3 separate regions of the Homo sapiens genome follow, and regions 1 and 3 are each linked to region 2. Evidence: fine-mapped expression QTL. A gene starts in region 2. Each other region holds a variant in brackets. All regions are shown on one strand. Distances are between the middles of the regions. Region 1 holds the start of HSD52 (a long non-coding RNA gene). Region 2 holds the start of FGGY-DT (FGGY divergent transcript). Region 3 has its middle 39 kb from the start of FGGY-DT.

Region 1 (2,764 bases), 150 kb before region 2:
ATGCCAAATGTATAATACCCATGGGGGCTGTTAATATAATGGCCAATATTTATTGTGTGATTACTATGTGCTAGTTGCTATGTTAAATGCTTACATGCAACATTTCATTTCCCTTCTACAAATATGCCATGAGGTAGATACCTGCTTTAAAATAAAGAAAATTGAAACTCAAAACAGTTAAGTTCCCATAGCTAGGATGACCAGCCAACCACCACTCAAAGCCCCCTGCTTCTAGCACTATGCAATGTTGTCTCCATTGTCTTTAGTCTAGTCCACCCGAACTAAGGAAAAAAATACTTTGAGCTTTTCACAAAACTTGTGTAAAAGCAGGTACATTTGAGGATAAAAAGTTTAACTATTTTATTCAAAACTCTTTATTCCCTTTGTGAATGGTCCAGTGAAAAAGGCCAAGCTTTCCATGTTACCTGCGAGGAAGGCCCAGAGAGGTCATGAGACCTAATCAATAACACACAGCAGCACCAAATTCCTAGTTCAGTGCTCAAAAGTTTAAACCCCAAAAGCCATTCAACTCCTCCTCCCTCCCCTCTGTCTTCTTTATGACCTGGCCTTGTAGGGTAATGGGAATGAGCATGGAAGACAGTCAAGCTGGGATCTGAATCCTGGACATAGAATTTACCAGTTGTAAGCACTTGGACAAGTTGCTCTTTGTGTCTCAGCCTCAGTTTTCATAGCTATAAAATTGTTATATAACATTGTTTTTTTTTTTTCTTTTTTTTTTTTTTTTTGAGACGGAGTCTCGCTGTGTCGCCCAGGCTGGAGTGCAGTGGCGGGATCTCGGCTCACTGCAAGCTCCACCTCCTGGGTTCACGCCATTCTCCTGCCTCAGCCTCCTGAGTAGCTGGGACTACAGGTGCCCGCCACCACGCCTGGCTAATTTTTTGTATTTTTAGTAGAGACGGAGTTTCACCGTGTTAGCCAGGATGGTCTTGATCTCCTGACCTCGTGATCCGCCCATCTCGGCCTCCCAAAGTGCTGAGATTACAGGCGTGAGCCACCACACCCGGCCTATAACATTGTTATATACTATTATTCAACTTGAGGGGGGAATTGAAAAGGTTAAATGAGGTAATGTCCATCATTCTATGTCATTACTTTGTTTTAATTTCTTCCTAGCATTGAACACTACTTATGATTATTTTATTTGTTCATGAGTTTACTGACTTTCTACCTTTGTCTTTCCATAGCTGTTCTCCAAGTGTCTAGAATTGCAGTGATTAGCACAGTGGCCACTAGCCAATGTGGCTATTAAGCATTTGAAATGTTCCTAGCAGGAACTGAGATGTGCTGGAAGTGTAACATACACACAAAGTTTCAAAGACACAGCATTAAAAAAAAAGTAAATGTAAAATATTTTATTGATAATTTTTATATTGATCACATATTGAAATAATATTTAGGGCATATTGGGTTAAATTATTAAAATTACTTTTACCTATGTCTTTTCACTTTCTTTAATGTGGCTGCTAGAAAATTTAAAATGTCGTATGTAGTTAATATTATTGCCATCGACCAGTGCTAGTCATGAACAATGCTG[G/A]CACATACTAGGTGCTCAATAAATAGTTGAACGACTGAATATTTTTCTTTGAATGAGTGAGTGGCACAAAAGTGAAAGTATGTGAATAATAGTTTATCTCAAGTAGGCGACCTCCATAGGATAAAGCTGTCTGCTTTAGGTTAATAAACTAATTCTGGTTGAGGTGTTAATAGCTGATAACAGCTTAACTTGTTGGCATGAGTCAAGGTAAGATGTACATTTTAATTGCAACTCTCTAGAAGTCAGATAAAAGTAGGCTTTTTAATTCTACTGTGAGGTCTTCCAGAAGCAAGGTTCCTTTAGATTAAATTAAAAAAAAAAAAAAAAAGAAGAGGAGGGAGGGGACAAATGCTGAGAATGGGGATGGAACAGAGGATGGAGGGAGATGCGGAGAAACTTCAGAGCGGCAGGTGCCTTCGTTTCCCGTTACCTGCTGAGTCTAGTCCCTTCCAGGGCACACAGTGGGCGCTTAGTAACTGTAGAAAGAAGTCGAACGAAATCGGAAGGGGGAGAGGCAGAGGCCACAATCAAGACACGGAAACGACAGTCAGTCGAGGCAGCAGAGAGGGTTTCACGCGGGCCAGCGGAGGCGCAGGGCAGTTGAGAAGGGAACTTGCCACGGGGCGGAGGGGCCGCGCTCCCCACCAGCGCGGCGCGGGGGCGCTAGGCCAGGGACCGCCGGGCCAGGGACCGCCGGCTGCGAGCAGCGGGAACGGACCTGCCCCGGGTCGCAGCGGTTTTTCCCGGGCGGGGCTGAGGCTGCAGGGAGGCGGGCGTTCCGGCGGAGGGTCACGGCCTCGCCGCCGGGACTTTCCTGGGGTGGAGGTGTGAGCACGTAGGAGCCCTGGCCTTTCCAACTTCCCAGGTCAGACTGGGGCTGGGACCACCCTGCGCGGCCTTGGATGCAGGGAACCAACCCAGTGCTAGTCCGCCCTCGCGGGGACCTGTCCTCTCGCCTGACCTATGAAGTCCGTCCCTGCCTCCAAGGCTCCAACAAAGTCCTTCTTTCCCCCAGAGTAGCAGTTCTCAAACTTGAGTGCATCAGCATCACCCAGAGGCTGTATTCAAACACGTTGCTGGCTCCCTCCACGGTTTCTGATTCTGTGGGTTTAGGGTGGTGATGCTGATTCCTCTGGTCAAAGGACCATCCCTGGAGAGCCACTGCCCTTTAGGTAACGATTTTCCCCTCATTTTTCTTCTGAACTCGGT
Region 2 (2,729 bases):
AGGTCTGGAGGGCAGTGGGTATTGATTGGTTCAGTGCCTCCTGCATTAGGAATCCACGCTTCTTTCACTTTGTTGCTTTGCTGTGTGTGGGTTTCATTCCTGAGGTCCTTTCATGGTTCAACACGGCTGCTGGAGCAAATAAAAAATCAAATACACAAAAGCCCAGAGAAAGAGCCATCCACAGAGGCCAGGCAACAAATCCACTTATTCAAGTCTAGCCAAGATGAGACCCCCTTGCCACAGTGCATGAAACCAGCATATTCCACTTATTCCATTCTTGGGGTACGTTGAAACAGATCTGGAAGCAATGTCTTCTGTGTATTAAGCATCTAACACTTTACAAAGCATTTTCATATGTCTTACCACATTTGTTCTTCATAATGTTCTGAAAAGGTAAGATGAATACATCTTATTATTCCTATTGAACACTTGATTCACACAGCTGCTAAGTAACAGATTCCAACGAGTCTATAGCTAGGTCTTTGGGTATGTTGCTGGTAATGAAAAGGTGAACAATCATGGTGCAGAAGAAAGAAAATGAGCCAAACCAGGATCCCTGGTAGAGTTGTAGTGCAAAGACTGGGGTTAATTGTGTGGCCTCAGCCTCACTGGGCTGTTCTCCTCACCTGTAAGACCAAGATAAGAGCACTTATTTACTTCGGGGTTGTTGTGAAGATAGCAGACAATCTTAGTGCACCTGCCACTTAAGATCCGTTCAGTGAAATTATTACCTTTCACAGGTGTGTCTTTGGAAAATCACTTCCCTTTCCTGGATCTCAGTTTTCTTTTCTAGGAAAACAACATGTTTGGACTCAGCGACTGCTAAACTGTCTCCCAAACCTCGAACTCCCTCAGCCTGGGATCCTGCCTTTTATGAAAATAGTTCGGATTGGAGCTCAGGTTGGAATTCTCGCTTTAGTTGCTTGCTAGCTGTGTGTCCCAGTAAAAGCTAAAAATTTCGGATTCCCCACATCTGTAGAATAGGGATACATAACATGCAGCTTATTAGAAAGGGAAGGCATGTGAGAATTAAATTAGGTCCGTGTCCAGTACCCACTAAATTGTAAAAACTTCTCAAAGGCAGGGACCCATCTGTTTTGTAGATTTACAGAATGTCATACGTTGAAGTACGGGGGTTCGCCACGGGATTAGAAAATTTCTGTAGAGTAAGGAACAAGACACAAGGTAAGCATTCAAGAATTGTAACCATGCAATATTCTTATTTCTTACAGTCGCCTACAACAGTCCTGGTGTTTAGTAAACGGTCTGACACACACACCCATCAGGGGCTGCGGAGAGTCCGCCTGGGTAAGCTCCGCAAGGTGAGTCCCCAGAGCCGGGAACTCGCAGCCTGAGCAGACGCAGCGTAGCCGATCTTGGGTCCGCGCTCCTCCCGCCTTGCCCAGCCCTGCCCGCGGTTGGCTAGGCCCCAGGGAACGCTGCAGCCGCGGGGTGGGCAGGCGACGGCCAATCCCACGCCCGGTTCAAAGGGCCAATCAGGCCGCGCTTTACAGGGGCCGCGCTTTACAGGGGCCGCGCTTTACAGGGGCCGCGCTTTACAGGGGCCGCGCTTTACAGGGGCCGCGCTTTACAGGGGCCGCGCTTTACAGGGGCCGCGCTTTACAGGGGCCGCGCCGGCGGGGGCGGGATCGCGCGCAAGGCGGGGCTGTAGCCGCCCCGGGACCGCCCTGCTCAGGCGCCGTGGGGTTCGGCGCGGCTACGTGCAGAATCCGTCTAGCTAAAATGTAATTTCAGATTGGACAAGTACTGTAAGTGACCCTCCTCTCAGTCCCACGTGGGCGCTGGGGGCTTTTGCTGGTGCGCAGGCTCTTAGCGCGCACGCCCAGAAAGAGGCTTCTCCAACCCGGCCCGGCCCTTCCTTCCCCTTTCCCGCAGTCGTTGCCTCCTCCTCCCCTGCCTCCTCCTCCCCTTCCTCCTCCTGGCCGCTTAGTCTCACACCCGCCGGGCCGTTGTTCCCGAGACGTTGTTGAGTCCCCTGTGTCCTCTTCTGGGTGAGGCGTCCGGCCACTTAAGGGAAGGGAAGGGAAGGGTCGGCCTTGACTGCATCCCCAAGGCTGCCTATTAGGTGTCTGGAACCCGTGCTGCTTCCTCTCCGATCAGTGCCCACTTATCTGTATTCAGTACTCTTTCTCTCCTCCCCTTACCCTTGTAGGACATTTTCCTGGCATTTGAGGAGCCTTTAATTCACGTCTGGCTACCGAAGGCATTTTTAGGCTAGTGTTGCTTGTAGATTTAAACGCTTCCAGCACTTGTGATAATGTTTGAGGCACAGCTGAGTTTAGATGAGATAATGCTGTTTGGTTACAGTTATCCTGAGTAGAAAGGCCTAGGGATATCTTTTCATTTTTAGCCGTTTCCTTTTTATTTAAAGATTGACAAGGGGCCGGGCGCGGTGGCTCACGCCTGTAATCCCAGCACTTTGGGAGGCCAAGGCGGGTGGATCACGAGGTCAGGAGATCGAGACCATCCAGGCTAACACGGTGAAACCCCCGTCTCTACTAAAAATACAAAAAATTAGCCGGGCGTGGTGGCGGGCGCCTGCAGTCCCAGCTTCTCGGGAGGCTGAGGCAGGAGAATAGCGTGAACCCAGGAGGCGGAGCTTGCAGTGAGCTGAGATCGTGCCACTGCACTCCAGCCTGGGGGACAGAGCGTCTCAGAAAAAAAAAAAAAAAATTGACAAGGTGCAAAATGGTGAATTTCCCTCATCA
Region 3 (2,764 bases), 39 kb before region 2:
TGGATTAAAGACTTAAATGTTAGACCTAAAACCATAAAAACCCTAGAAGAAAACCTAGGCAATAACATTCAGGACATAGACATGGGCAAGGACTTCATGTCTAAAACACCAAAAGCAATGGCAACAAAAGCCAAAATTGACAAATCGGATCTAATTAAACTAAAGAGCTTCTGGACAGCAAAAGAAAATACCATCAGAGTGAACAGGCAACTTACAGAATGGGAGAAAATTTTTGCAACCTACTCATCTGACAAAGGGCTGATATCCAGAATCTACAAAGAACTCAAACAAATCTACAAGAAAAAAACAAACAACCCCATCAACAAGTGGGAGAAGGATATGAACAGACATTTCTCAAAAGAAGACATTTATGCAGCCAAAAGACACATGAAAAAATGCTCATCATCACTGGCCATCAGAGAAATGCAAATCAAAACCACAATGAGATACCATCTCACACCAGTTAGAATGGCAGTCATTAAAAAGTCAGGAAACAACAGGTGCTGGAGAGGATGTGGAGAAATAGGAACACTTTTACACTGTTGGTGGGACTGTAAACTAGTTCAACCATTGTGGAAGTCAGTGTGGCGATTCCTCAGGGATCTAGAACTGGAAATACCATTTGACCCAGCCATCCCATTACTGGGTATGTACCCAAAGGATTATAAATCATGCTGCTATAAAGACACATGCACACGTATGTTTATTGTGGTACTATTCAAAATAGCAAAGACTTGGAACCAACCCAAATGTCCAACAATGATAGACTGGATTAAGAAAATGTGGCACATATACACCATGGAATACTATGCAGCCATAAAAAAGGATGAGTTCATGTCCTTTGTAGGGACATGGATGAAGCTGGAAACCATCATTCTCAGCAAACTATTGCAAGGACAAAAAACCAAACACCACATGTTCTCACTCATAGGTGGGAATTAAACAATGAGAACACATGGACACAGGAAGGGGAACATCACACACTGGGGCCTGTTGTGGGGTGGGGGAAGTGGGGAGGCATAGCATTAGGAGATATACCTAATGTTAAATGACGAGTTAATGGGTGCAGCACACCAACGTGGTACATGTATACATATGTAACAAACCTGCAGGTTGTGCACATGTACCCTAAAACTTAAAGTATAATAATAAAAAAAAAAAGAAAACAGTAATTACTAGGTCAAAGTCGAGTTAAGAAAAATAGAATCACTCCAAATAATTCAATAGAGGAAATGTAATTTAAGGAACTAATTCCACATGCTTTCAGAGAGCTAAAGGTGCAAACATGGAATAGAGAGGCAACCCAGAGACCCATTGTCACCCTTAAGGGTGGCAGGATGGATGAAAGAAGTGCTACGATCACTAAGAAGCTACCAAAGCCACATACAGGGAGATGAAAACATTGAGAAGACACAGCCTGGACATGCTGCCTAACTAAGCAAATCCCATTCCCAATCTCTTTCCTAGTGCCTTCTGTTGGCCAGTCCTCATGGAGTGA[CAGAA/C]AGGAAGAATGCATGAGAAATATAGTTTGTAGGGTTCAGCCCCTTGCAATACAAAGAAGATCACAGCAAGTGGTGAATGGATCCAAGATCAACAAGAAAATGGCAGAAATTGATATTTATAACTTCACTTTGAAAAGAGAGCCACAGTTGACATTCTGGCATATTTACCTGTCATCTTCTTTTTATATATTTTTCATGTGCATAATGGAGGTCATACAGGTTTTGCAAGTCGATGTTCTTTTTTCTTCACTCAGTATTATTTCTTGTGTTTTTCCGCATCATTCAAAATTTTATGAATTTGGATGCATACTCTTGCATTTTATGGAGGTACTATAATTTATGTAGTCATTTCTTTATTATTGGACATAAAAAATGTGTCCATCAAAGCAATCTTTTAAAAAAAGACCAAAATTGGAATACTTAACAGATTTCAAGACTTATTATAGAGCTACAGTAATTAAGACAGTGCAGTTTTGGTATTAAGTTAGAAAAACAGAACAATAAAATAGATTATAGAGTCCAGAAATAGATCCCCACGCATAGGGTCATTTGACTTAAAGCTTTGCAATTCAGTATGAAGAAGACCATCTTTTCAATAAATAATGCAAGTTTTCCTTATTTTCTACATTGACACTCAGTTTACATTTATATTGAATTTATATTGAATATCAGTGTGGAAAATAAAGGAAGCTTGATCTCTACCTCAGGCCATGCACAAAAATTAATTTGAAGTAGATTAAGAACCAAAATGTGACGTCCGAAGTAATCAAGCTTCTAGCTGAAAATATAGAAGAATATCTTCCTGGCTTTGATATAGGTAAAATGTATTAAATAAGACACAAAAAGAATTTACCCTAAAAGAAAAAAATTATAAAATTGATTTTATTAATGTTGGGAATTTCTGTTTATCAAAAAGCAAATAGGCAAGGCACAGAGTTACAGGTGCAAACAGAGGCTAGAGAAGCAACCCAGAGACCCAGGTTGGCATTATTTATAATACATATATCCAACAAATCACTCATACTCAGAATGTATAAAGAACTCCTTCCAAAATTAAATAACAAAAACACAACCCAATTTTACAAAGGCAAAATTATCTAACAGATATTGCACAAAAGAGGCTGTTCAAATGGTCAAGCAGATGGAAAGGTGTTCAATTTCATTAGCTATAGGAGAGAAATTCAAGATAAACCCACAATTAAAAACCATTACAAACCCACCAGAATGGCTAAAATTAATAAGCCTGACAATATGAAGTACTG

Evidence for each region. PIP is the estimated chance that this variant, and not a neighbour inherited with it, causes the effect.
Region 1: its variant is fine-mapped to the expression of FGGY-DT in testis (GTEx, PIP above 0.99).
Region 3: its variant is fine-mapped to the expression of FGGY-DT in subcutaneous fat (GTEx, PIP 0.95).

What each region holds. Positions count from the first base shown.
Region 1 is chr1:59,144,691-59,147,454 of GRCh38, forward strand. It overlaps HSD52 (a long non-coding RNA gene), which reads right to left and starts at 2,117. Exons shown (of 3, transcript NR_027120.1): 1 at 1,986-2,117. RefSeq lists an enhancer at 1,946-2,005 and a silencer at 2,126-2,275. The variant G/A (reference allele first, on the strand shown) is at 1,556.
Region 2 is chr1:59,295,139-59,297,867 of GRCh38, forward strand. FGGY-DT (FGGY divergent transcript) reads right to left here and starts at 1,412. Exons shown (of 2, transcript XR_001738089.2): 1 at 1,231-1,412; 2 at 1-626. It overlaps FGGY (FGGY carbohydrate kinase domain containing), which reads left to right and starts at 1,956. Exons shown (of 16, transcript NM_018291.5): 1 at 1,956-2,012. RefSeq lists silencers at 1,358-1,897, 1,908-1,997.
Region 3 is chr1:59,255,803-59,258,566 of GRCh38, forward strand. No RefSeq gene overlaps it. Among named protein-coding and RNA genes, the nearest start is that of FGGY-DT, 39 kb to the right of the region's middle. The variant CAGAA/C (reference allele first, on the strand shown) is at 1,499.